2 separate regions of the Homo sapiens genome follow, and region 2 is linked to region 1. A link means that fine-mapping ties the variant in region 1 to the expression of a gene that starts in the linked region. Tissue or cell type: prefrontal cortex. Region 1 holds a variant in brackets; the other region holds the start of a gene. All regions are shown on one strand. Distances are from middle to middle.

Region 1 (12,379 bases):
GATGAAGCTGGGGGAGTAGAGACCAGGCCATGCCAGGTCTTGGGTGTTCAGCCAGTGAGGCTGGATATTGAATTGATCAGACCTCTTTCAATTCCAGTGACACAAATCCAAGTCAAAATAGCTCAAGTTATAGGGACAGGTGAATAGCTGAAGCAAAATGGAAGAGAAGGTCCATCCAAGGTGCCGGATGGATTGTCCACATGACACTCAAAGTTCCAGAGAATGAAAACAAGCCTTGAGTAGAAAGGAAGACAGTGAGTCCCACTGAGCCCAAATCATCAGTGACCAGAGGATGTGAGTTGAAGGTTGATAAATGACAGAGATGAGGTGGTGTCAGAGCAGGATGGAGAAGGGATCTGAACCGTGGAGGAGACATGTTCTGGAGCAGTGTTGGGATGAGGAGAGGTGAGTTTAGCTGGTTGCAAGTTTCTGAATAGAATTCTGAGGTCGTATTCAGAAGCAGGCAGTGTGGATGCAGTCTATGGGTCTGTGACAGCTGCCTTTGGACAGAGTAGATAAACGTGATCATTTTTGGGGGGTGGAGGAACATCTCAGATTCAGTTAAGAATTGAGCCCCATTAAAAACAGCAGAAATGTCATTGTTCTGAAGCCAATTAGGAGAAGAAAAGGACTGGGGGCTAGTCTGGATAATTGGTTGTCATCTTCCTGGCCTCACTAGATTCTCAGCTCCTAAAAGTCCTTATTAATGAACCTGAAGAAAAGGTTACCATATGGACCTACTAATGAAGAATATTTCAGGAATCTGACAGTAATTGGGTGGGGTGCATTTGGGGTTATTCTGCTAAGCAAGAGAGGCCCTTGAGCTGGCTAGACCCATGAGTTGGTAACTTGAGTCACAGTTCTCACATTCCGGGTACCTTTGAGATGACAGTAAAGACATCTCTTTGGCATGACACAAGAGCTCCCCCTGTTTGGCCCCCTGCTGACTCAACTCTCACCACTTAGGGTTTTCTGCTCTAAGGATAACAAACTGCTATGGCCCTTTTGGCATAGACCAAGGCTGATTTTGCCCCCTTATCTGTGCTCTATTCATGCTGTCTCCCCTGCCTGTTGTGCTATGCTAGACATGCCTGTGCTCACACATACACTCACAGTGACATGTCTTTGTCTAGCTGATATCTGCTTAAGCATCAGCTTCTCCAAGAAACCGTCCCTGGTCTCCAGGCTTGGTTAGATGCTTTCTCTGTGCCCTGACAATCCCCTGGCTTCCCTCCATTCCAACACTTATTGCCCTGTAATATTGTCAATGTGTCTATCTTCCATAACACACTAGGGGCTCCTCAAAGGTAAGGGCTGTGTCTGATTCACCTTGCTGTCCCCAATGCCCAGCACCGTGCTCATTGAGCTGAGCTTTCATGACCCACACTATCCGTATCCCCTCAACCACACCCTCCTTGCTCATTCCCACCTCCTTAATTCAACTATTCATTCCACCAACATTCACTAAGCACCTACTCTTCCAGGTGGTGCTGGGGCTCAGAATGACATAGTTCCTGTTTGGGGAGCTCCCTGTCTATATGGACTTCTGCCATGCAGGGTAAAAAGTGCTATGGCAGGAGGAAGCACAGAGGAGAATGAAGATACCATATGTAAGCTGAGTCCTGAAGAATGAGAAGAAGTTAGGTGAAGAGTTTTGTTTAATTATTTTTAATGTAATTTATTTGTGTATTCATTTATTTATTTATGGTCTCGAACAACTGGCCTTAAGCAACCTTCCTGCCTTGGCACCCCCAAAGTACTGGGATTCCAGGCTTGAGCCACTAGCACCTAGCCAGTTTTGCTCAGTTCTGACTTTTTTTTTTTTTTTTTTGAGACAGAGTCTCACTCTGTCGCCCAGGCAGGAGTGCAGTGGCGCAATCTCAGCTCACTGCAACATCTGCCTCCCAGGTTCAAGCAATTCTTCTGCCTCAGCCTCCCGAGTAGCTGGGATTACAGGCAGTGCCACCACACCCGGTTAATTTTTGTATTTTTAGTAGAGACAGGGTTTCACCATGTTGGCCAGGCTGGTCTCTAACTCCTGACCTCAGGTGATCCACCCACCTCGGCCTCCCAAACTGCAGGGATTACAGGCGTGAGCCACTGCACCCAGCCTGAGTTCTGACTTTAAAGGCTCACATCCTCACTAACTTCAAGAAGCTTCCTCCTCCTCTCCTTCCCTGCCAGCCTCTCCCTCTCCTGCATCCCTGCATGGCCTCTGGTTTCCTCTACCTGGGTTAGAATGTTACAGCTTGTTCTGTTGCTGTTCCAACTGAGCGTGAGACAAGGAGGCATAAGGGATAGACCCCTGGCCCATCTCTGAGTCTCAGTTTTCCTGTCTGCAAATTACAAGTGCTAACCCTTGCCTTGCCCCACCCCACTCACATGGTTGTTTTCGTATTTGTGAACTGTTAATGTGAACTGCAGATGGGAGAGACTGATGCCTTTATTAGCATGTCTTTTCTACAACTATAATTGATCTCCCTGTGTCTGTATCTCTAACACTCAACACAAGACATGGCACAAGGTCAATGCTCAATAAAGACTTGGTGGGCCAGTCACTGTGGCTCATGCCTGTAATCCCAGCACTTTGGGAGACCGAGGCGGGCAGATCACCTGAGGTTGGGAGTTCCAGACTAGCCTGGCCAACATGGTGAAACCCTGTCTCTACTACAAATACAAAAATTAGCCGGGTGTGGTGGTGGGTACCTGTAATCCCAGCTACTCAGGAGGCTGAGGCAGGAAAATCGCTTGAACCCGGGAGGCAGAGGTTGCAGTGAGCCGAGATTGTGCCACTGCACTCCAGCCTGGGCGACAGAGCAAGACTCTGTCTCTCAAAAAATAAATAAATAAAAATGAAATTAAAAAAAAAAAGACCTGGCTTATTGATTGACCCTAAGTGATGAAGACAAAGAGATTTCCCCAAAGGCCCTGGAGACAGTAGAGGTGCAAGGAAGCTGGGAGTAAGGTGGGCCAGGAACATATAGGAAAGAGAATTGCCATGTATTCACATGCCAATCATGTCATATACTTTCATGGATTTAATTTTCATTACTATCCTATGGGGTAGGTAGTATTCGCCTCATTCTATAGATGAGGAAACAGAGACTGGGAGCAATTAGGCAACTTGTCCAAGATCACACAGCTAGTAGCTGCCCTCTGTACAATGTGGCATGTCCTCCCCTCAGTGCCACTTCCTCACAAGGGATTTGTGCCCCTGGCCTTGAACTGTGTCCTCATCTTCATCTGAGCTGAAAACCTATTTACTTACTTACTGGTCTGCCTCTTTCCCAAATAAACAATACACTCCCCGCACCTCCCCAAACACTGCCACTTGTGATAAGGCAGTCAAAGACTGGGGAGTCCATTTTTGTGACGTTCATTAAGGAAAAACGATATGCTGGAGGGTCTCTGAAGCTGACTGGGTTTCTATGGCCTGAGTATAATGAGCCAGCAGCTGCCTCCTTCTTCATCACATGTCCACAATTAGCAGGCACTTCTGCTGCTTGTCTTTCTCAGGTCAGGAGATGGGCCACAGGAGAGGCTGTCAGCTGGAGGTGGGCTGGCAGGAATGGCATGTGCCTTCCAGCCAAAAGGCTGGGAAAAGAGAGGCCTTGTTTATACCTGGGGGGCTTCAGCCCTCTCTATGGATGGTGGAATAATAGGGAGAAAGAGGGAGGGGGGAAAGAGATCCCTCCTTTGTTAGAGAAGATGATAAAAGAGGATGTTAGAAAGATGGAGAGGAGGTGGGAGGAACAAGTTGAAAGAACAGAAGGAAACTGTCTTTATAACAGGCCACTTTTTTACAGCAATGTATTCATCATCTCACACACTCCTCCCACCTGTTCTTGGTAGGAAGACACTGTTGTTTGTCTTATTTGACAACAGGGAGTCTGAGAATTGGAGAGGTTAAGTGAGCAGAGAGGTGAAGTGACTTGCCCAGACTCAGATACTGTTAGTCGGATTAAAGCAGAGGAGGCCAAAGAGACTTGTAAAGGAAGAAAAAGGTATAATCAGGAAAAAAAAATGCAAAGTGAAAGAGAAAAGGGGGAAGAAATGAGAGGCAGAGCTGTGTGTGGACTTTGGAGACAGCCAAACCCAGGTCTAAATCCAGTTTCCGCTAATACAGCCACATGACTTTGTGTGAGTTATGCAGTCTCTCATATTCTCATTTATAAATTGGAGATGATGTTATTTACCCAACTGGTTATTGTGAGGATTAAAGAAGATGATATCAGTAAAGCTCCTAGCATAGTGTCTGGCATGTAGTAGTTGCCCCAAAGATATTAGGAATCCCAAGGAGAAAATGCAAGGGACACAGGGGAAAGGCTCCAAAAGAAGGGAAAGAGGAAAGCAGACAGACAACAGAAGTGGGAGAGGGCTGGGGACTGATGGAGAGGGCCACTTTTGCTTCTAAGGGCTGCCACCAAGCTGACCAAGATTCCTTGGGTGGAAAGCAGCCTTTTGGAATCAGGAGGGCCTTTGCTGTGTCTCTTGGGACAACCAAGTTCTTTTCATCACAGAAAGTGACGCTAAGGGTCTCAAGATACAAAATAGACAAGAATGTTGCATACCTGAGATGTAGTTTTCCCTGGGCCTTTTGTTGGGTTTGTGGAGGGAGGGTGAGATCTATTGGATCGTTTTAGTGGAATTCAGGGAGGAGGAACCCCACTGAGTGGAAATAAACCAGTGTGGCTATGGGTGGAAAGGGCAAAGAAGACTTATTCAGTGTGAATCTTGAGGTGCCTCCTAGAGCCCAGACTAGAGCTGGCCAGCCTAGGGGGAATGAGAGGCAGGGGAAAGAGGAGGAAAATCCCTGCGAAAAAGTCCAAAACCTGGGCTTCTCATACTGGTGCTTTTCCTTATCTTGGGCAAGCTAGCTTACTTCTGTAAGCCAGTGTTTGTATTAGTGAAGTGGAGAGGATCTGACTGAGACTCCTTCCTCAGGGGCAACATGAAGATCAAATAAAATAATCTATGTGATAAGTGCTTTGGAAACTGTAAGGTGCTGTGGACACACGTTTATGCATTTGCTCTGTCAGCAAACACTAATGACCCCCTCTGTGTCAGGCACAGGGTTATATATTTCACATACATTGTCTTGCCTGATCCTTGAAATAATTCTATGAAGTAGGTAAAATTATCCCTTTTTACAAACCAGGAAATTGATTTGTAAAGAGAATAAATGACTCAGCCCGGAATTAAACAGCTGGGCGGTGGTAGAGCTAGGATCAGTCTGACTGAAAGACCAGTGCAGGAAACTCCTGCCCTGTACCGTCTCCTTGAAGCAGAATCCCATGTCCGTGGAATTTAGCCTCTTTGCTTCACTGCTGAGCACTGGACATATTAATCCAGAGTGCTTGGGCTGAGGGCACAGAAGGGTTCCAGCAGAAGGGATGGGAAAAGTCCTTATCTGTATCTCTCCTCTTTCCAGGGTTTGATTTCTTTGAAGCCAGTGCAAAGGAGAACATCAGTGTAAGGCAGGCCTTTGAGCGCCTGGTGGATGCCATTTGTGACAAGATGTCTGATTCGCTGGACACAGACCCGTCGATGCTGGGCTCCTCCAAGAACACGCGTCTCTCGGACACCCCACCGCTGCTGCAGCAGAACTGCTCATGCTAGGCAAGGCCCACCTTCCTGACCTCCCCTCATTGTGGCCCCACACCCAGTCTGCTTCTCCCTGTTACACACTGTCCGCTCTCAGCCCACTCTCCCTGTTACACACTGCCCACACTCAGAGCAAGATGAGTTGCTGCTATTCTTTGCCTGCCCCTGGGGTTCTCTGCAGATGGTCCCAGTAATAGATACTCAGCACTAGACTAACATAACAGGTCACTACACGGGTGCAGAATCACTTTACAAAAGAAGACTCTGTTTTACGAAGGGGATTCACTACAGGGACTTAGAGAACAGTCTCTTTTCTGCCTTTAAAATGAGAGTTCCTCCATTTACCAAAATTTGACACGCACACATTCTTCAGGGGCATGCCAATTGCGTAAAGTGAGGCTCGCCTGCATAGCTAATCCTGTTAAAGACAACTTCTCAAAGCACAACGTGCTTGTTTCCTATCGGGCTCCCTGCGGGGCTTTCTCTCACTACAAGTCAAGCTTGGGCTCTCAAAGCCCTGCGCCTGTTACCACGGATGCCCACAGGGCCTGGGCAGTTGCTGTGGCGACAGGAAGAGCTAATCTTCAGAGAGCTCAGACTCTCTAATGATGCTGAAGGAGCAAAGGCTGAGTCAGAAACACACTTAAGAGAAAAGGATTGGCCGGGCGCGGTGGCTCACGCCTGTAATCCCAGCACTTTGGGAGGCCGAGGCGGGTGGATCATGAGGTCAGGAGATCGAGACCATCCTGGCTAACAAGGTGAAACCCCGTCTCTACTAAAAATACAAAAAATTAGCCGGGCGCGGTGGCGGGCGCCTGTAGTCCCAGCTACTCGGGAGGCTGAGGCAGGAGAATGGCGTGAACCCGGGAAGCGGAGCTTGCAGTGAGCCGAGATTGCGCCACTGCAGTCCGCAGTCCGGCCTGGGCGACAGAGCGAGACTCCGTCTCAAAAAAAAAA[AAAAAAAAAAAAAG/G]AGAAAAGGATTATCCCCTACAAAATGTCAGAGGTTCCTGCTATATGAAAGAGCAAGTAGGTATGCTCAAGAAAGACAAACAGAGAAAAAGAGAAACAGGCAAGATCAAGAAACAGATCATGAGTTTCTGATTTTGCTGCTTTCCAGTTGGTTCTTAACTGTGGGAACTTAGTGAAATTGGTTATTAGTTCTTAGACTCCTAGAACCTGAGGATTTTAGATTTGACGGGATGCCCAAATTTACCTAGTCTGACTAGTCAGTTCTAACCTTCCTTTTTCTGACAAGTGACTGTCAAGCCTAACAATCAAATCTCTTTCTTTTAAAGCACACCTTCTAGGCAGGGACAGGAGCTCATTTTCCACACCATCTTTGTCAACTCTCATAGAAAGTTTTCCTTGTATCGAGCTCAAATCTGCCTCCTGGAAATTCTTCTTCTTCTTCCCTCCCTGTTGGTACCAGCTCTGCTGTCAGAGACTTCACAGTCTGTGCTCCCTCTGCCCTGTGACGTCTTCAGACTATTTGAGAACAGGAATCATGACTCCTGGGACTTGCCTTTTCTCTAGGTCAAATACCTCTATAATTCCATCTGCTGTTCTTCATAGGGTCTTCTCCCTATCCTGCCCTTTTCCTCCAATCCATCTTTTAACTGCTCTTGAGCAGTCTAACTGAGAAGTATGATTCAAAGCAAAATAAATCTTAAGGTGGCATGACTCTGAAAAAATTGAGAAAATTGAACTCAGAGATCCCGATCCCAACCCCTTTCTCCTGGGAGTGAAACCTTAGTTTCTACCAGAGAGTGTGGGAAACCACTTCTGGTGGAAGCCCCTTAATTAAATACCTGAGGAAAAAAATAAAAGAAACTCAGAGACCAGAATAAATTAGCTCATTATTCTAGCTTGCTTGGCCACAGGGACATATTTTGTTTTGGCTGAAATAATGACATGGAACTGGCAGTGATTCCAGAAAACCTTTCTTCTCTATCATGGCCTGAATCCTCAGCCACCTCAAAAGTCAGCGGGCAGGAGGAGTCTCTCGCCAGTTTTCTTTTCATTTCAAATGAGGCTCATTGTCCTAGAAAAGTAATTAACTAGCAACCAGTCCAATGACTAAATAAAAGGACCATCCAGCTGTGGCTCACACCTGTAATCCCAGCACTTTGGAAAGCCAAGGCAGGAGGAACACTTGAGGCCAGGAGTTTGAGACCAGCCTGGGCAATGTGGTCAAATTCTATCCCTACAAAAAAAAAAATTAGCCAGATGTGATGGTGCATGCCTGTAGTCCCAGCTACTTGGGAGGCTGAGGCAGGAGGATTGCTTGAGCCCAAGAATTTGAGGTTGCAGTGAGCTGTAATTATGCCACTGCATTCCAGTCTGGGTGACAGAGTAAGAATAAGACCCTGTCTCTCTGTCTCTCTTTCTCTCTTTTTTTTTTTAAAGGAGTCAGCTCTACAAAGATGTTGCTTTCTTTGATGCAATGCAGAGAGCAGAGCTTTGGACTTGGAATCAGGAGACCCGGACTCTGTCATTAAATCAACTGTGACTCTGGGCCAGTTACTTTCCACTTTTGAGTCTTGATTTCCTACTTATAAAATGAGGGAGCTTATTTGGATGATCTTTAAGGTCTCTTTTGGCACTAATAACTCGGTGTCTCTTTTTTTTCACCTTCACCATTTCAGTTGATCCACCAAACAAACCTGAGAGATCAGGATTGGCATCCAAGAGTTGTCTCGGCCAACTCTGATGTCATGCTTACTCTGTACTAGACATTGTTCCAAGCATTTTACGTGCATTAACTCATTTATCTTCCCAACATCTTGTGAGGGAGGCACTATAGTGAGCCTCATTTGAAGATGAGGAAACAAAGGTACAAAGAGGTTCTAGCTGGACCTCTAAAGTCACATAATAAGTAAGTGGTAGAGCTGGAGTTCACATCCAGGCAGTAGGCTCCAAGGTCTGTGCTCTTAACCACATTCTGGGCTGCATCTTTTATAGACAAACTATGATCCAGAGAGATTACGAGACTTGGATCACATACCAAGAGAGTGTTAAAGCCACATTAGGATTCAATTCCAGGGCCATCAGATTCCAAGTCCACTGGAGAAAAGATGTATATCTCTAATCTGTTAACAAATTGCTCAACTACTCAGACTAATCCCAGGTGATGGATGTCTAATGCTCAGGAAAGGCGAGTCAGTCTCTGAGGCAACAGATCCCATGGGCCTGGGTAGAAAATGCCCAGTGCTTCCCAGTCCCAAGTGCTGGCTTTCCCTGTATCTGCCTCTGCCAGGCAACACTTATCAGGCTCCCAATCAGCAGGAGCCTCCATGCTCCACTTTGAACAGCCTCTATGCTCCAGCAATGGGGCATTTGTGAAGAGTGACTTGATTAACTTTTCTGACCATGGGTATAATACAGTTGCTTCAGAGGGCAGTGGTTCTGGGTGTGATTTTTACACTGTAACATTGTATACAGTGTCATGGATAATTACTATTTTTTTCTGGTCATTAACACTCACCTACTCTAGTACTAGGATTTCAGACCAAGGTCCTCATGACGCCTGGATATTTTAGTATCTATATCCAATAATCTTTTCTCTCCTACTGAATATCCAGGCAAAGATGAAATCGTTTTCTTTAAAACTGTCAAATTCTGTAAAACTCAGGAGCCAGTTCAAGGGAACAAGCATCTTCACAATAGATGGAATCAAGAGTTAAATGTTATAGTGGCAAGCTTGTCTACTGGGCAACAGACAACCAGACCTGCTTGTGAGATGGCAGCTCCCCAGCCCTGCTCTGTGACCTCATTTCTGTCAAATGAAAGGCAGCAGCTTCCAGCTGATTGCAGCATAGTGTTCATCAATCACAGTAATAGCGCAATTAGCCACCAAGGTTCAAGCTGTGTAATATGTGTTAGTGGCAACTTGTCCTGGATTTAATCTTCCTCAACAATCCAAATAAAATATTTAAAAACTCTTGACTTCTGGCTGGGCGCAGCAGCTCATGCCTGTAATCCCAGCACTTTGGGAGGCCGAGGTGGGCAGATCACCTGAGGTCAGGAGTTCAAGACCAGCCTGGGCAACATGGTGAAACCCCCATCTCTACTAAAAATACAAAAATTAGCCAGGCGTGGTGGTGGGCACCTGAAATCCCTACTCAGGAGGCTGAGGCAGAGAATCGCTTGAACCTGGGAGGCAGAGGTTGCAGTGAGCCGAGATCGTGCCACTGCACTTCAGCCTGGGTGACAGAGCGAGACTCCATCTCAAAACAAAACAAGCAAACAAACAACAACAACAAAAAACACCTCTTGACTTCTAAAGACGCAAAAGTGGCCAAAAGTGCAATACAGTATTGTGTTTATTTACATCTATTTTAAATGCATGTGTATCTGTAAATACAAAGTGATTCGTGACTCATTGTCTCCTCAGTCTATAGCATTATTAACTTCTAGGAGCAGCAGTGGAGTAGAGTGTACTGAATGGTCACAGACTCATCGATTATCAGATCTGGAAAGGAGCTTAGAGAAGATCTGTTCCAGGCTCCTATTTTATAGAAGGGAAGGTTGACATCCAAAGAATGGAAGGAAATCTCCTAATTATTCTGAGAGTATCACAGTGATGGAGCCAGGACTAGGTCCTGGATCACCTCTAAGAAGACACTTAGCTATTTGACTATCGACTAGGGCCTAGCATTATTAAGCACTAGATAAATACAGATGAAAAAAAAAATGATCCCTGCCTGCAAGGTCCTATGATCTAATGGAGATGCTGTTTCTAAAATATTATTATCCCAATTTGGCAGTCAAGGAAACAGCCCTGGAAAAGTTAACATGCTCAAGTCACCCACTAGCATCATTTGAACCCTCCTCTGTCTGACTCATGCTCTTTCAAATTTTTTTCTTCAGATTGTCTTAGCAGAAGGGTAGATGGGATATACCCTCTGGTAGTACCAGGCTCCCAAGGATTCTTAGAGTTAAATAACCTCAGTTAATTAAATAGCCACAATTGCTTGGTGACCGAAGCCTTATAACATCCACAGAATAAGACCATTCTCCAGACCTGACTCCCCAACTCATATCACCTGCTCCTGCCGGCCACTAAGCTCCTTGCTTGGATATCGAGTTTTCTGGAGTATCCTGAGGAATGTTTGTTTGACTTTGTTTGCCAACAGTTTAGGGGAAGGGGAAAGAACTACAATAACCAGTGTCCTGGGATCTCATTGATTTCAGATTCCCTGCCCCAAGCCTACACCCAATTACCTGCCATAGTTGGGGAATCAAGTAGCATCCTGTGGCTGGAAGTAAATGCAAAACACTAGTCCGTGAGATATAAATACTGTTAAATGATGGTTTTTTAAGGTCCTGATCCATTATATGAAGTAGACAAAATTCAAATTTATTTATTCATTTATTTTCTCAACAAATGAATATATATTATGTGCCAGGATACAAGTAGTGGCAAATTAGACACAGTTCTTGCTTTCATGAAACGTATAGCTTCATGATTTAGTATAGACATTGTCAAATCATCACCCAAATATAATTACAAAGTACTCTAAAGGAAAGGCACGTGATGCTGTGAGAACACTCAACTGGGAAACCGGAATCACCTTTGAGAAACTGTTTCAGGGGCTCTTGGAAGAGTCTACTGCTCCCAAATATCTCTGCTACCCACTGGCCATTGCTTTACATTCCTCAACTAAGCTTTCACCTTTTAGTACTAACCTTTGATGACTGATCAAATACAAATGCCCCAAGAAGACTGAGGATAGGAGAAAGAATATCTCTACCTGTGAAACATTGTTAGACTGCCTGGCTAGGAGTTCATTGTTGTTTTCTGAAGGACGTAACCAACCACTCCAAAACTTACAGGCTTAAAACAACAAACATGTATCATTTCTTATGATTCTGTGGGTTGGCTGGGTGGTTCTTCTGGCTGAGGCAGGATGGTCTAGGATAGCTACATCCACATGTCTGGGGTCCCAGCTGAGATGACTGGGGCTGTTGAGGCCTTTCTCCCTGTGGTGTCATCCTCCAGAAGGCTGCCCAGATTTGTCCATATGGTAGCAGGAGTTTCCTCGAAGCAAGAGAGGGCAAGATCCAACACAGAAGCACTTTTCAAGCTCTGTTTCCATCACATTTGCCAATGTCTCACTGATGAACACAAGTTCCATGGCCAAGTCCAGTTTTAAGAAATGGAGAAATAGGGCTTGGCTCAGTGGCTCATGTCTGTAATCCCAGCACTTTGGGAGGCCAAGGCATGCGGATCATTTGAGGTCAGGAGTTCCAGACCAGCCTGGCCAACATGGTGAAAACCCATCTCTACTAAAAATACAAAAATTAGCTGGGTGTGGTGGCGGGCATCTGTAATCCCAGCTATTTGGGAGGCTGAAGCACAAGAATTGCTTGAACCCAGGAGGAGGAGGTTGCAATGAGCCTAAATCGCACCACTGCACTTCAGCCTGGGCGATAGAGCCAGACTCAGTCTCAAAAAAAAAAAAGGGGAGGGGGAAATAGATGCCATCTCTTTATGGGAGGAGCTACAAAATATGGTGACCAATTTTTCAATCTACCACAGGAAGCACCCTCAGTCCTCTGAAACTAAGTCTGGTAGATGTCCTGGGGTCTTAAAACATGGCTCCGATGATATCACCAAAGACAAGTGGCAAAACTGTATAGGGCAGGGCAGTCTTATCATTTGTTTAATAGTGATCCAAAGGATTTACTTTGGAGGAATCAAGACACTCGAGATGAAGAAGTTTTGATGCTTGTTAAACAGTCCATTTGGATACCTCTTAGCTATCCCCGAGGG
Region 2 (12,379 bases), 71 kb before region 1:
CTAGGGTAAATATTCACCTTGTGAAAATTTGAACATTCCAAACGACATCCGCTTGTGCCATTTTCTAAGCCACTGATTATCATTCAATAAAAAGCTGACACCTGCGATCTTAGCTTCTTGGAAGGCTGAGGTGGGAGGATTGCTTGAGACCAGGAGTTCAAGATCAGACTGGGCAATATAGGAAGACCGCCCCCCCCCCCAACCCTAATAACAACAACAAAAGAGCATCAATTCTATACTTCTTATAAAACTAGGAGTTGGAGAAGGCTGATTACTCTGGCAACTACAAAAGGAAATTTTGTTGTAGGACTCTATTATTTATTTATTTATTTATTTTTGAGACAGGGTCTCTCTCTGTCACCCAGGCTGGTATGCAGTGGCATGCTCTTGGCTCACTGCAATCTCTGCCTCCCAGGTTCAAATGATTCTCTTGCTTCAGCCTCCCGAGTAGCTGGGACTACAGGCGTGCACTACCATGCCCAGCTAATTTTTTGTATTTTTAGTAGAGATGGGGTTTCACTATGTTGGCCAGGCTGGTCTCGAACTCCTGACCTCAGGTGATCTGCCCGCCTCGGCCTCCCAAAGTGCTGGGATTACAGGCATGAGCTACCGTGCCTGGCCTATTTATTTATTTTTTAAATATAGAGACAGGGTCTCTCCATGTTGCCCCAGCTGGAGTACAGTGGTTATTCACAGGCATGATCCCACTACTGATCAGCACAGAAGTTCTGGCCTGCTGTTTCTGACCTTGGCTGGTTCACTCCTCCTTGGGCAACCTGGTAGCCCCACACTCCTGGGAATTCACCATATTGATGCTGAACTTAGTGAGAACACCTGTTCTGCATAACACACATAACAGCCCAGAACTCCTGAGCTGAAATCATCCACCTGCCTCAGCCTCCCGAGTAGCTGGGACTACAGGCAGGTGCCATCTTGCCCTTGCAGGACTCTTAATCACAATGATGTTCACTGGGCAATCAAAATATAATTTTAGAGTCTAATAGAAAACGCCCTGTCCTTGGAGTCAGACAGACCTGCTATCTGGCTCTGCCACTTACCAGTTGTATGACCTTGGGCAAGTCACTTAAACTTTCTCAATTCTCTTTCCTTGTCTATAAAAAAGGGATGATAATCTATAACTTGCATAATTATATTGAGGATTAAATGAGATAAAAGATGTGAATAATCTTAGTGTAATTTAAAGATTCAATGAATATAATTGTTAACTAATCTGAGCCAAGACAAAAGGTAGAATTTTGTCTTCATTCAGGGGCCAGGTTCAGTGGCTCATGCCTGTAATTCCAGCACTTTGGGAGGCTGAGGCGGGGCAGATCACCTGAGGTCAGGAGTTTGAGACCAGCCTGACCAACATGGAGAAACCCCGTCTCTACTAAAAATACAAAATTAGCTGGGCGTGGTGGTACATGCCTGTAATCCCAGCAACTCAGGAGGCTGAGGCAGCCAAATCATTTGAACCCGGGAGGCGTAGGTTGCAGTGAGCCAAGATCACGCCATTGCACTCCAGCCTGGGCAACAAGAGCAAAACTCTATCTCAAAAAAAAAAAAAAAAGAATTTTGTTTTCCTTCCCATTCTTCCTTGGGCATTTGGATCTGGAAGTGAAGACAGTCCAGTATAATTTGATTTGTGTTGTTCTTCCCTCAGGTGGTTACCTTAGTCAATAAGAAGGTAGCTTATGAGGGCATAAATGATGCAACCCAAATGTCAGATGTGGCCTCTCTGCCTCCTTTTTTTTTTTTTTTTTTTTTGAGATGGAGTCTCGCTCTGTCGCCGAGGCTGGAGTGCAGTGGCGCGATCTCAACTCACTGCAAGCTCCGCCTCCAGGGTTCACGCCATTCTCCTGCCTCAGCCTCCCGAGTACCTGGGACTAAAGGCGCCCACCACGACGCCCGGCTAATTTTTTGTGTTTTTAGTAGAGACAGGGTTTCACCACGTTAGCCAGGATGGTCTTGATCTCCTGACTTCGTGATCCGCCCGCCTCGGCCTCCCAAAGTGCTGGGATTACAGGCATGAGCCACCGCCCCCGGCTTTTTTTTTTTTTTATTTGAGACCAAGTCTGACTCTGTCACCCAGGCAAGAGTGCAGTGGTGCGATCTTGGTTCACTGCAACCTCCGCCTCCCGGGTTCAAGCGATTCTCCTGCCTCAGCCTCCCAAGTAGCTGGGATTACAGTCACCTGCCACCATGCTGGCTAATTTTTTTGTATTTTTAGTAGAGATGGGGTTTCACAATGTTGGCCAGGCTGGTCTTGAACTCCTCACCTCAGGTGATCTGCCGACCTTGGCCTCCCAAAGTGCTGGGATTACAGGTGTGAGCCGCTGTCTGGCTGCCTCTCTGCCTCTTCAAGATCCAAATGCAATGGGCTTGAACCTCAATATTCACATTTCCCAACTCATGTAAGTGCAAAGTCCTACACAAGTTTTTGCAAGTTCCACAAGGGCTTGTGGTCTCACAGTTACCTCTGCTTCCAGTCTCCTTTTTCAACTGAGACCTAACAAAGCACATTGCTCAACTCCCTACTCATGTACTCTCACAATTCCCCTCTCTCAAAAAGCGTTCCTGGGTGTAATAGCCCTTCCTGAAGTCTTGAGAGTCACATAGGATGGTCACGTCCTAGTGTAACAAACAACTTATCCCATTTTAGGTATCCCACTGCTGAAACACTCTTGTCAACTACCATGGGAGAGTTTCTTCTGACTCTTTACCTATGTAGCACCTATCCTTACATTGATTTTCTTACTCATCTTTTTCCTTTTCCCCTCCGATCTCTATTAACTTGCCCTCCCATTTTGTCAAGTGAATTCCAAATTTGCCTTCCCCCAACCCTCCCACCCCCACCTTTTTTTTTTTTTTTTTTTTGAGATGGAGTTTCACTCTTGTTTCCCAGGCTGGAGTGCAACGGCGCAATCTCGGCTCATCGCAACCTCTGCCTCCTGCTACCCCTAATTTTGTTTAGATGGAGTCTCACTCTGTTGCCCATGCTGGAGTGCAGTAGCACAATCTCGGCTCACTGCAACCTCCGCCTCCCAGGTTCAAGTGATTCTCCCGCCTCAGCCTCCCGAGTAGGTGGGAGTACAGGCGCCCACCACCACGCCCGGCTAATTTTTGTATTTTTAGTGGAGACAGAGTTTTACCATGTTGGCCAGGCTGGTCTCGAACTCCTGGCCTCAGGTGGTCCCAAAGTGCTGGGATTGCAGACGTGGGCCATCATGCCCCACCTACCCCTACTCCCTTTTTAAACATAGAGAGCAATTTCTTCTCCCAAAGTTACGTATTCACTCTCATCAATTGAGGCCCCAAGCAGGACAAAAGGACTTTCTGTGCATTGGGATCTGTCATTCCTGGAAGGCAGTTGTGGTTTAAAAATAGCACTTTTTTTTTTCTGTTATACGAAGCACAGTGTTTCCTATTTGTTGAATGCTTACTGTATGCCTACCACTCTATCAAGTCCTCTCCAGTAGCTTGTGTTCTCATTTGATCTTCCCAACAACTCTGAGAAGCAGCTCTTATTATTGCTCTTTCTACAAATAAGGAAGGGGTGTGCGTGCGAGAGAAATTAGGTAATTGGCATAAGATCACACAGCAAGCAAGGACTGAAGACCAGGTCTGCCTGGCCCCAAGCCTGTGTGTGCCCTTTCTAATTTACTATACCGCCTTTCAGAGGAGGGAGAAGGAGAAAGCAACCAGAAGAACTGAGGCTACATAAAAGCAATACCATCTGTTCTCATATTGTCTCACAACTTTAAAAGGATGGCTCTATATGCTGTCTCATTATTCCTAGGAAGAAAGAATAATCATTATCATCTCGTCTATTTTGAAATGAGGGAAGTAGGGCCTTGTGAGAGAAAGAGAGTGAGGGAGCAGTTCAGCGTAGCATGTTTGATTTTGCTATTACAGAGGTACCAGCAGTGGGTGATTAAGAGCTCAAGAGTGACCATGGGAGCTGGTGGCCAAGGTGATGTGGAGGACAAGGACTGAGGGACCAGGAAATCTCATAGCTACTGAAGTCACCAGGAGGATGGCAGGACAGGGGCTAGTGAGGATGACCATGAGCCAGGGGCTGCAATCTGTAATGCATAAGGAGCAATTGGGGGGTCAGTGATGAGGAGGGGTTGAGGGGGGTATGGCTGGAGAGCACAGAAGAAAGAATTTTTGCACAAGGGTGGAAATGGCCATGCCATCCCCACATCCTAGTTTTATAGTATATGGGGAGTGGAAAAATGAGAAGCCTTCTAGCAGAGGGCAGCAAAGGAGGCAGTACCTGGAGGAGGCTCAGGCAAAGAAGTCACCTGAGTACTCTGAAGAAGCAGAGGGTATAGCAGAGTTTGTTGACAAAAGAACAGGATTCTAGAAGGCACAGAGGAAAGAGCTGCCAGTGTGATGGGCAGTGTGAGTGAAAGGGCTGGGCAAGAAGCTCAGAAGAGTAAGCGTCTGAGGCAGAGGCCAGACAAGCAGAGGAGCTGTCAGCTTGGGTGGTTCCTAGGCTGGAGATGTACACTGTAGACAGGGTCATAATGGAACTTGGGGGGAAAATGGTTTTGGTATTTGACTCAGACCTCTAAGATCTGAGATGGGGGAGAAGTGTGGGGAAAGACAATGATTCTAGAGCAAGCCTTCAGCTGGCTCCTGTGACCTCAGGAAGACTGGAAGTCCATATCAGGATTTGAGGGTGGGGTATTTATTGCCTCCTCTATCTGCCTCCTCTAGTGGAAGTGGGACTTCCTAGGGCCAGGCCAGGCAAGAACATTTTTCTACTCCTGTTGACAGCCTCCTGGTAATGGGAAACCATTGAGAGGTTTTTGTTTGTTTGTTTGTTTGGTTTTTGATGGAGTCTGGCTTTGTTGCCCAGGCTGGAGTGCACTGCTGGAGTGCAGTGATCTCGGCTCACTGCAACCTCTGCCTCCTGGGTGCAAGCAATTCTGCCTCAGCCTCCCAAGTAGCTGGGACTACAGGCATGCACCACCATGCCCGGCTAATTTTTGTATTTTTAGTAGAGACAGGGTTTCACCATGTTGGCCAGGTTGGTCTCGAACTCCTGACCTCAAGTGATCTGCCCACTTTGGCCTTCCAAAGTGCTGGGATTACAGGCGTCAGCCACTGTGCCTGGCCGAGAGTTTTCTTAAACAAGGTTGATGGTAACATGGTGACATTTTTTAAAGGGTTGCTCGGGCTTGTGTCAAAATGATTTTGGTATCTGACTCAGAATGAATGGGACCAGGAAGTCTCACAGCTACCGAAGTCACCAGGAGTATGGCAGAACAGGGGCTAGTTAGGATGACCATGGGCCAGGGGCTGCAATCTTTAATGCATAAGGAACAATTGGGTGTCAGTGATGAGGAGGGGTGGAGGGTGGTATGACTGGAGACCACAGGAGAAAGAATTTTTGTACAAGGGTGGAAATGGCCATGCTGACACCACGTCCTGGTTTTATAGGGTGAATTGGAGAGTGAAGGCAGGAATTAGGAAGCTGTTGCATTAGTCCAAGCAAGAAGTGATGATGCTGGAGTCAGAACAAGGGCAATGGAGACACAGAGGAAGGGCAGGGATATGTTAAGGCGGTGGGATGTGGGGTGTGAAGGAAACACAGATAGGGTAGAGGACAGCGTCCAGGTTTCTGGCTTGGTTTCCGCTTGTAGTCAGCCTCCCTCTCTGGGCTTTTGTGAAGACGGAGCCATAGAACGGACCGGACCAGAAAGCAGTTTGGAAATGGCAAAACTGCTACCCATCATCAGCTACATTATCATCAAAGCTCTCTAATTACCCTAGTAAGTTCAGTCAATGGAACGAGGCATGACAATTAAGATAAATCACGAGAGTCACCCAGACATGGGGGACCTGGAGGTCCTGAGTCACCTCGGATTACACCTGCTAGGAGTTGAGGGCCGGGGCGGGGCGAACACAGACTCCGCCCTTGGGCGGGGCCTGGATGCGGCCGGAGCGGAGCAGTGCTGGAGCGGGAGCCTCAGCCCTCAGGCGCCACTGTGAGGACCTGACCGGACCAGACCATCCCGCAGCGCCCCGCCCCGGCCCCCTCCGCGCCCTCCCGACGCCAGGTCCTGCCGTCCCGCCGACCGTCCGGGAGCGAACCCGTCGTCCCGCACTCGGAGTCCGCGGTAAGGGGCGCGGCCCCGGCAGCCCGCCCGCGGAGGATCAGGGACCGATCCCCGGCGCGGGGCGCTGGGCACCGAGAGCGGGCGCCGAGAAGGAGCGCGGGGCAGCGGAAGGAAGCCGGGGGAGGAGCGAGGGAGGGGGCTCCGCGGCGGCAGAGGTGGGGCTCACCTAGGGAGGGGGCGCCGAGGGGGTCTCCCAGACGTTGGGGGCAGCCGGGGGAGCTCCAAGGGCGGGAGGGGAGCAAGAAAGACGGCGCTGGGGCTGGGAGGAGAGATGGGGGGCAACTGGAGGGCAGTGAGGGATCGCTGGGGGAAACGGGGGCGTGGGGGGCGGGGGAGCTGCGAGGAGGGCGGAGTGGGGCTGTGCGGAAAGGTGGTACCGGGCAGCCGAGGGGCAGCGAAGGGGGCGGTGAAGGGAGCGGACTGAGGGGAGCTAGAGCGGGGGTGCGGGGGGAGGCATGGAGGTGAGGAGCTGAGGGGAGGGGACTGGCTGGGCGGGGGTCGTTTGGAGCTGGAGGGGACTGAGGTGCCGAGGGCAAGGGGCGCTGGGCAGCTGGGGAGTGTCTGGTTGGGAGAGGGTCGGGGGTGGGGATGTGGGTATGGATAGCTGGGAAGGAGAAAGGCAGCAGGGCAGTGTCTGGTCGAAAGAGGGTCATTTATGGGGGATGTGGGTATGGATAGCTGGGGTCGGAGGTTGAGCCCGGCTGGGGACCGGCGTGGGGGTAACTGTAGATGGAAGACGAGGGGTGGGGCTTGGGGGCGGGAAGCTTGGGAGAATGGAAGGGTGAGAGGCCAGGTTGGGTCTACCCTGCTGCAGAGGAAGGGGGCAGGGAGCCGGTGGAGACACAGGGAAGTGGCCTTGGAAATGGACACAGGGGCCTACATTCTGGTCAGGAGTGGAGAGGAGGCTCTGGAATAGAGTAGGGTCTGGCGGCTGCAAGTGGAGGAATCGTGGGAGAACTTGGAGTGTATAGATAGGGTGGTGGGGCGCTGGGTCAGCCTGGGGAGGAGGCCAGGTGTGGGTCGTGGTGTAAGGGTGGAAAGGTAATGGGGGCTGGAGTGGTGTCCACGCACTAGCGGTGTCTCGGCCACTCAGGAGTCCAAGGAGGGGACCCAGGCACTGGACCTTGTTACACGGGCACCGGGGATCACAGAAAATAAGAGAATCGTGGACAGAAAAAGTCATCCAACTCTGTTCTGTAGTCCAAGCATGGAAGCAACTTTGGGGAGGGCAGGGCAGCAGCCTTTGGAAGCTAAGAGAGATGTGGAGGAGGTGGGAGAAAGATGGGCCCTCAAAACACACACACACACACACACACACACACACACACACACACACACACACAAAACAAGATGGGCCCTCTTCCCCCGGCTTCCTGGAATCCAGATGGAAAGGGGTGGGAGACAGTAAAAGGAGAGGATGTGTGTGTGTGTGTGTGTGTGTGTGTGTGCGCGCGCACAGGTGGGTGTCCACCTGTTCTGTGCCTATAAACAGAGGAAGACAATGGAAGCCGTGAAAGGCCCTATCTATAGAAGTGGAAAGCCCTGGTGCCCTGTGGGAGCCAGAGAAGAAGCATTTTGGGGGAGGTGGGTGGGTTGGGGAAGCCTTCCTGGTCATGAAGGATTTAGCTAGCAGTGGAGGAAAGTGTGTTCCTATCAGAGGAAACCGTATGGGAAAAGGCAAAAATCTAAAAGCATCTCCAGTCCAAGAAATAGATCTTCAGTTTCTTAAAGATTATGACATGAAGGGAGGCATCAGTAACCTATACAAAATATTTAAATAGATTTCCCCTCTAAGCTTGAAGCTCCTAGGGTTTCTCTCCATCTCCCTAAAGTATAGCACAGGTCCTGGTGCATAGTAGGTGCTTGGTGAATGTTGATTGAATGAATAATTGGTGCTCCTGCCTCAATTTCTTCATCCATTCCCAAGAATTGTTGTGAGAATCAAATAGGATAATGTGGGTGAAAAGAACTTTGTAAACTGTAAAACAATGTACAAAGAGAGAGGCCACTGATGTTATTCTGCAGGTGTTCCTGTTTTGTCAGTGGACACACCCATGGCTATCTCTTTCCAATCTGGAGGAGGAAGGAAATGAATATCAAGCATCTGTTGGTGCAAGATGGAATGCTTTGAAAGCATCTTGTAGAATGCTAGACATTTAGTAGGTGCTCAATAAATGGTAGCTATTGTGATATTGTTTCTGTGGCTCTAGGAGACCTGGGAAAACAATGAGAAGGTGGTGATGGGTCAGCAGTGGGGAATGGTCTAAAGACAGATTGAATTAGAAAAGTAGAGTATGGCTTAAAGGAGGATGAGGTCCACATTTGCCCAACTCCCTTCTTATTCTCACTGAAATGCTCCAAGTAGGAAGACAGGGAATTACATTATTGAGCCCCTGCTATATTGCATATACAGTTGACCTTTGAACAGCATGGGTTTGAACTGTGTAGGTTCACTTATACCTGAATTTTTTTTTTCAACCAAACACTGATTAAAAAAAATACCATGGTGGGTCAAGCGCAGTGGCTCAAACCTGGAATCCCAGCTATTTGGGAGGCTGAGGTAGGAGGATCGCTTGAGCCCAGGAACCTGAAGCTACAGTGAGTTATGATCAGGCCACTGTACTCCATCCTGGGAAACAGAGTGACACCCATCTCTTAAAAAAGAAGAAAAAGAGAAGAAAATACAGTAGTGAAGGGAGGTGAAGTCTGTATATTCAGAGGACCAACTTTTAGTCTAGGTGGGTTCCACTGGGCCAACTGTGGTTCTTGAGTAGGCGTGGATTTCGGTATATATGGGGGTCCTGGAGCCAATCCCTTGCCTATACCAAGAAATTACTGTACTATTCTAGATGTATAACCCACATTACCTATAATTTTCCCAACAACACTTGTTTTATGAATGAGGAAACTGTCTTAATCATGTAACATTTCTTGCCAAGGTCTCATAGGTAATAAATGATAGACCTGGAAACTGAATCTAGTTTGTTTGATTTGGAGCTCCAAACTATTTCCACTACACAGGATGACTTGCTAGAAGAAACCATGAAGCACAGAGACAAACAAACAAACAAAATAAGGGGTTAATAAAACACCCTCCCATATACAGGTTTTAATTCTTGCAACAGTTTTGCCAGGAAGCCATTTTATGAGCTCCTTTTATAGATAAGGAAACTGAGGCCAGGGGTGTGATTTGCCTAAGTTTACAGGATCACTGAAAGAGCCAGGGCTTATCTTTCAAATGCCAGGTCTCTTGGACTCAGTCTCATGTTCTTTGCAACAAAAGGTAAGTTCCTTCATTCACTTCTTCACTCCATTTATTGAGCTGATCTCTTCTCGCTGGATTTTAGGGCTCTCTCCTCCTCCTCCCCGCTCTTTCCTGGCTGAAGTTGGCTTCTTCCTTAGGTGCTTATTTCTGCCGCCTATCAGACTGAAAGGGTTGTTTTTCACAGCCACCCTTTGAGGAGTCATTTCTTTCCCCCAGCCTGGGACAGGGACGACTTCCCAGATGGTCCCTGGGCCTTCATCTGTATTGCTTGTCACGGAGATAGCTCTATCATTTTATGTGACTGTCACAAAATAGAGGAAAGATTTGATTGATGCTTATCTTACAAATGCAATTCTGCATGCACCACTGTGCATGACCTGTCTGCTTAGATCTGCCTCAGGCAGCTGCCTGCTGGGATGCTTTTTGCCTGTCTTCCAAATGTCTGAGTAGCCCCTGGCCGCCCCCTCCTAAGAAGATCCCCTTGGGGGCTTCCATCTGAATGAGCCTTCCAACTGAACTCAGCTCTCTGCCTCTCCCCGTTCTCACACCACCTACTGGGAAAGCCATGCTGTGTGTGCATAAGCAGATGTTAACAGTGTGGTATGGCAAGTACAGTACGGTAGCAGGACACTCAGGATGTTGGGTATGCTTCTTTTTTTTAATTTTTATTTTTAGAGATAGGGTCTCACTCTGTCACCCAGGTTGGGATACAGTGGTGCAATCATAGCTCACTCTAACCTCGAACCTCTGGACTCAAGTGATTTTCCAGCCTCAGCCTCCCAAGTACCGAGGACTACAGGTGCACACCACCACATCCGACTAATTTAAACTTTTTTTGGCTGGGCGCGGTGGCTCACGCCTGTAATCCCAGCACTTTGGGAGGCCGAGGCAGGCGGATCACAAGGTCAGGAGACCGAGACCATCCTGGCTAACACGGTGAAACCCCATCTCTAGTAAAAATACAAAAAATTAGCCGGGTATGGTGGCGGGTGTCTGTAGTCCCAGCTACTCGGGAGGCTGAGGCAGGAGAATGGCGTGAACCCGGGAGGCGGAGCTTGCAGTGAGCTGAGATCGCGCCACTGCCCTCCAGCCTGGGCGACAGAGTGAGACTCTGCCTCAAAAAAAAAAAAAAAAAAAAAATTCGTAGAAATGGAATCTCACTATGTTTCCCAGGCTGGTTTTGAACTCCTGGCCTCAAGTGATTTTCCCATTTTGGCATCCCAAAGTGTTGGGATTACAGGCATGAGCCACCATGCCCAGCCAGGATGCTTCTTTATTCACCCTAAAATTGTTGTGGTTTTCGTTTTCCTTAATCCCGTCAAACCTGGAAGCCATTAGGTAACAGAAGTTCCATTCATGACCCTCCAACTGACTTGCTGTGTGAGCTTGGACAAATCACTTGTCTTTGCAGAGCCTCAATTTTTTTTTTTTTTTTTTACCTGTAAGATAAACGGAGGTAGATCAGGAACTGAAACAATTTTTTACTCTTGCCATCACTTCCTAGTCTCCTATCTGTGGCAGTCACAGCTAATAAAGGCAGGCAAATTTCTCACTGATTCTACACGAGGCTACATGTATTTTTCTCAGCACAGTGTATGAAACATACTTATATACGTTCTCTTATTTAAAATTCACAGCACCTCGTGAAGTAAGTATTATTGTCAGATGAGGACACTGAGGCATAGAATTTAAGTAACTAGGCCAAGTTTACACACTGAGTTACTGGGAAAGCTGGGCCCAGTAGCCAGGCTTTTTGTTACAATAAAAAGCTGCTACTCCAAAGTCCCCTCTAATTCTAGCAGTTTAAGAGTGTGAAGCTGGGCTACATCAGAAAAGTGAAAACCAGTAATCTGACATTTACACTGATAGTCTGGCACTTGAAAAATGCTCTATATGTGTTTCTTGAAAGACATAACACCCTCTAAGGATTTACTGTAGGTCTAGCGTTGACCAGATGTAAGGATGGATAAAGCCCCCTTGAATCCAGAAGAGAGAGCAAACAGTTAATTGTAAAACAGGCCCAAATAATGGAGCCACAATCAGGGAGAGGGCAGTTGAACAAGATTTGCCTGCAGAAGTGAATTAAAGGGGCCAGTGAAATAATATGTATTCAGTACCTCCATGGGCCGAGAAACTGTGTCAGATTGTTTACGTATAGTACTACTCTTTCTATTTGTACCAAGCTCTGTGAAGTAGGTGGTATTTTCTCTATTTTAAGGTAAAAGTGCTGTGGCTTAGAGAGGCAATATGACTTACCTAAGAATTCATCTGAGGGTAGAGCATTGATTTTAAACTTTTTCATAACACTGCAGGGTACTAAGTCTAGTCTCGGCTGTTAGCTATGAGATTTGGGCAAATCCTTTTAATTTCTCATTTTCAGTTTCCTTCTTGATCAAATGGAAATAATAATCCACGTCTTTCCAGCTTTATTTCCCAGGTTTATTTAGAGATAAAAGAAGATAAAGGATATGAAATTGTGGTAAAGATCACATTTATGTTTTAGTAGTGACTCTTTGACCAGCAATTCCACTTCAAGGAATCTCTCTCAAGGAAGTAATTAGGAAAATGTACAAAAATTTATGTAAAGAAATGTTCACTGCAGTTTCATGTATAATAATTAAGAGTAGAAAAACAACTTAAAAACAACTTCCTAAAGAGAGTGACAACATTAAATAATTGATCTGGCTGGGCCAACATGGTGAAACCCCATCTCTATTAAAAATACAAAAATTAGCCGGTGTGATGGTGAGCACCTGTAGTCCCAGCTACTTGGGAGGCTGAGGCAGGAGAATCGCTTGAACCCAGGAGTTGGAGGTTGCAGTGAGCCAAGATTGTGCCATTGCACTCCAGCCAGGGTGACAGAGCAAGACTCTGTCTCAAAAAAAAAAAAAAAAAAAAAGAATTGGTCTTATGACACATCTATAGGATGGAATATAATGTAGTCAACTGAAATGATGTTTTTTTAGAGTTTTCAAAGTCTCGT

Alleles and levels. Alleles are on the strand shown, and positions count from the first base shown. SD is a standard deviation of normalised expression in the study named.
As copies of AAAAAAAAAAAAAG replace G in region 1, the expression in prefrontal cortex of the gene that starts at base 5,983 in region 2 goes up (moderate effect, 0.48 SD a copy in ROSMAP).

Evidence for each region. PIP is the estimated chance that this variant, and not a neighbour inherited with it, causes the effect.
Region 2: it holds the start of RAB3B, and the variant in region 1 is fine-mapped to the expression of RAB3B in prefrontal cortex (ROSMAP, PIP 0.95).

What each region holds. Positions count from the first base shown.
Region 1 is chr1:51,913,167-51,925,545 of GRCh38, reverse strand. RAB3B (RAB3B, member RAS oncogene family) reads left to right here. Exons shown (of 5, transcript NM_002867.4): 5 at 5,432-12,379. The coding sequence ends at 5,619. Among named protein-coding and RNA genes, the nearest start is that of NRDC, 41 kb to the right of the region's middle. The variant AAAAAAAAAAAAAG/G (reference allele first, on the strand shown) is at 6,562.
Region 2 is chr1:51,984,304-51,996,682 of GRCh38, reverse strand. RAB3B (RAB3B, member RAS oncogene family) reads left to right here and starts at 5,983. Exons shown (of 5, transcript NM_002867.4): 1 at 5,983-6,131. It also overlaps the pseudogene RN7SL290P. RefSeq lists a silencer at 5,960-6,069.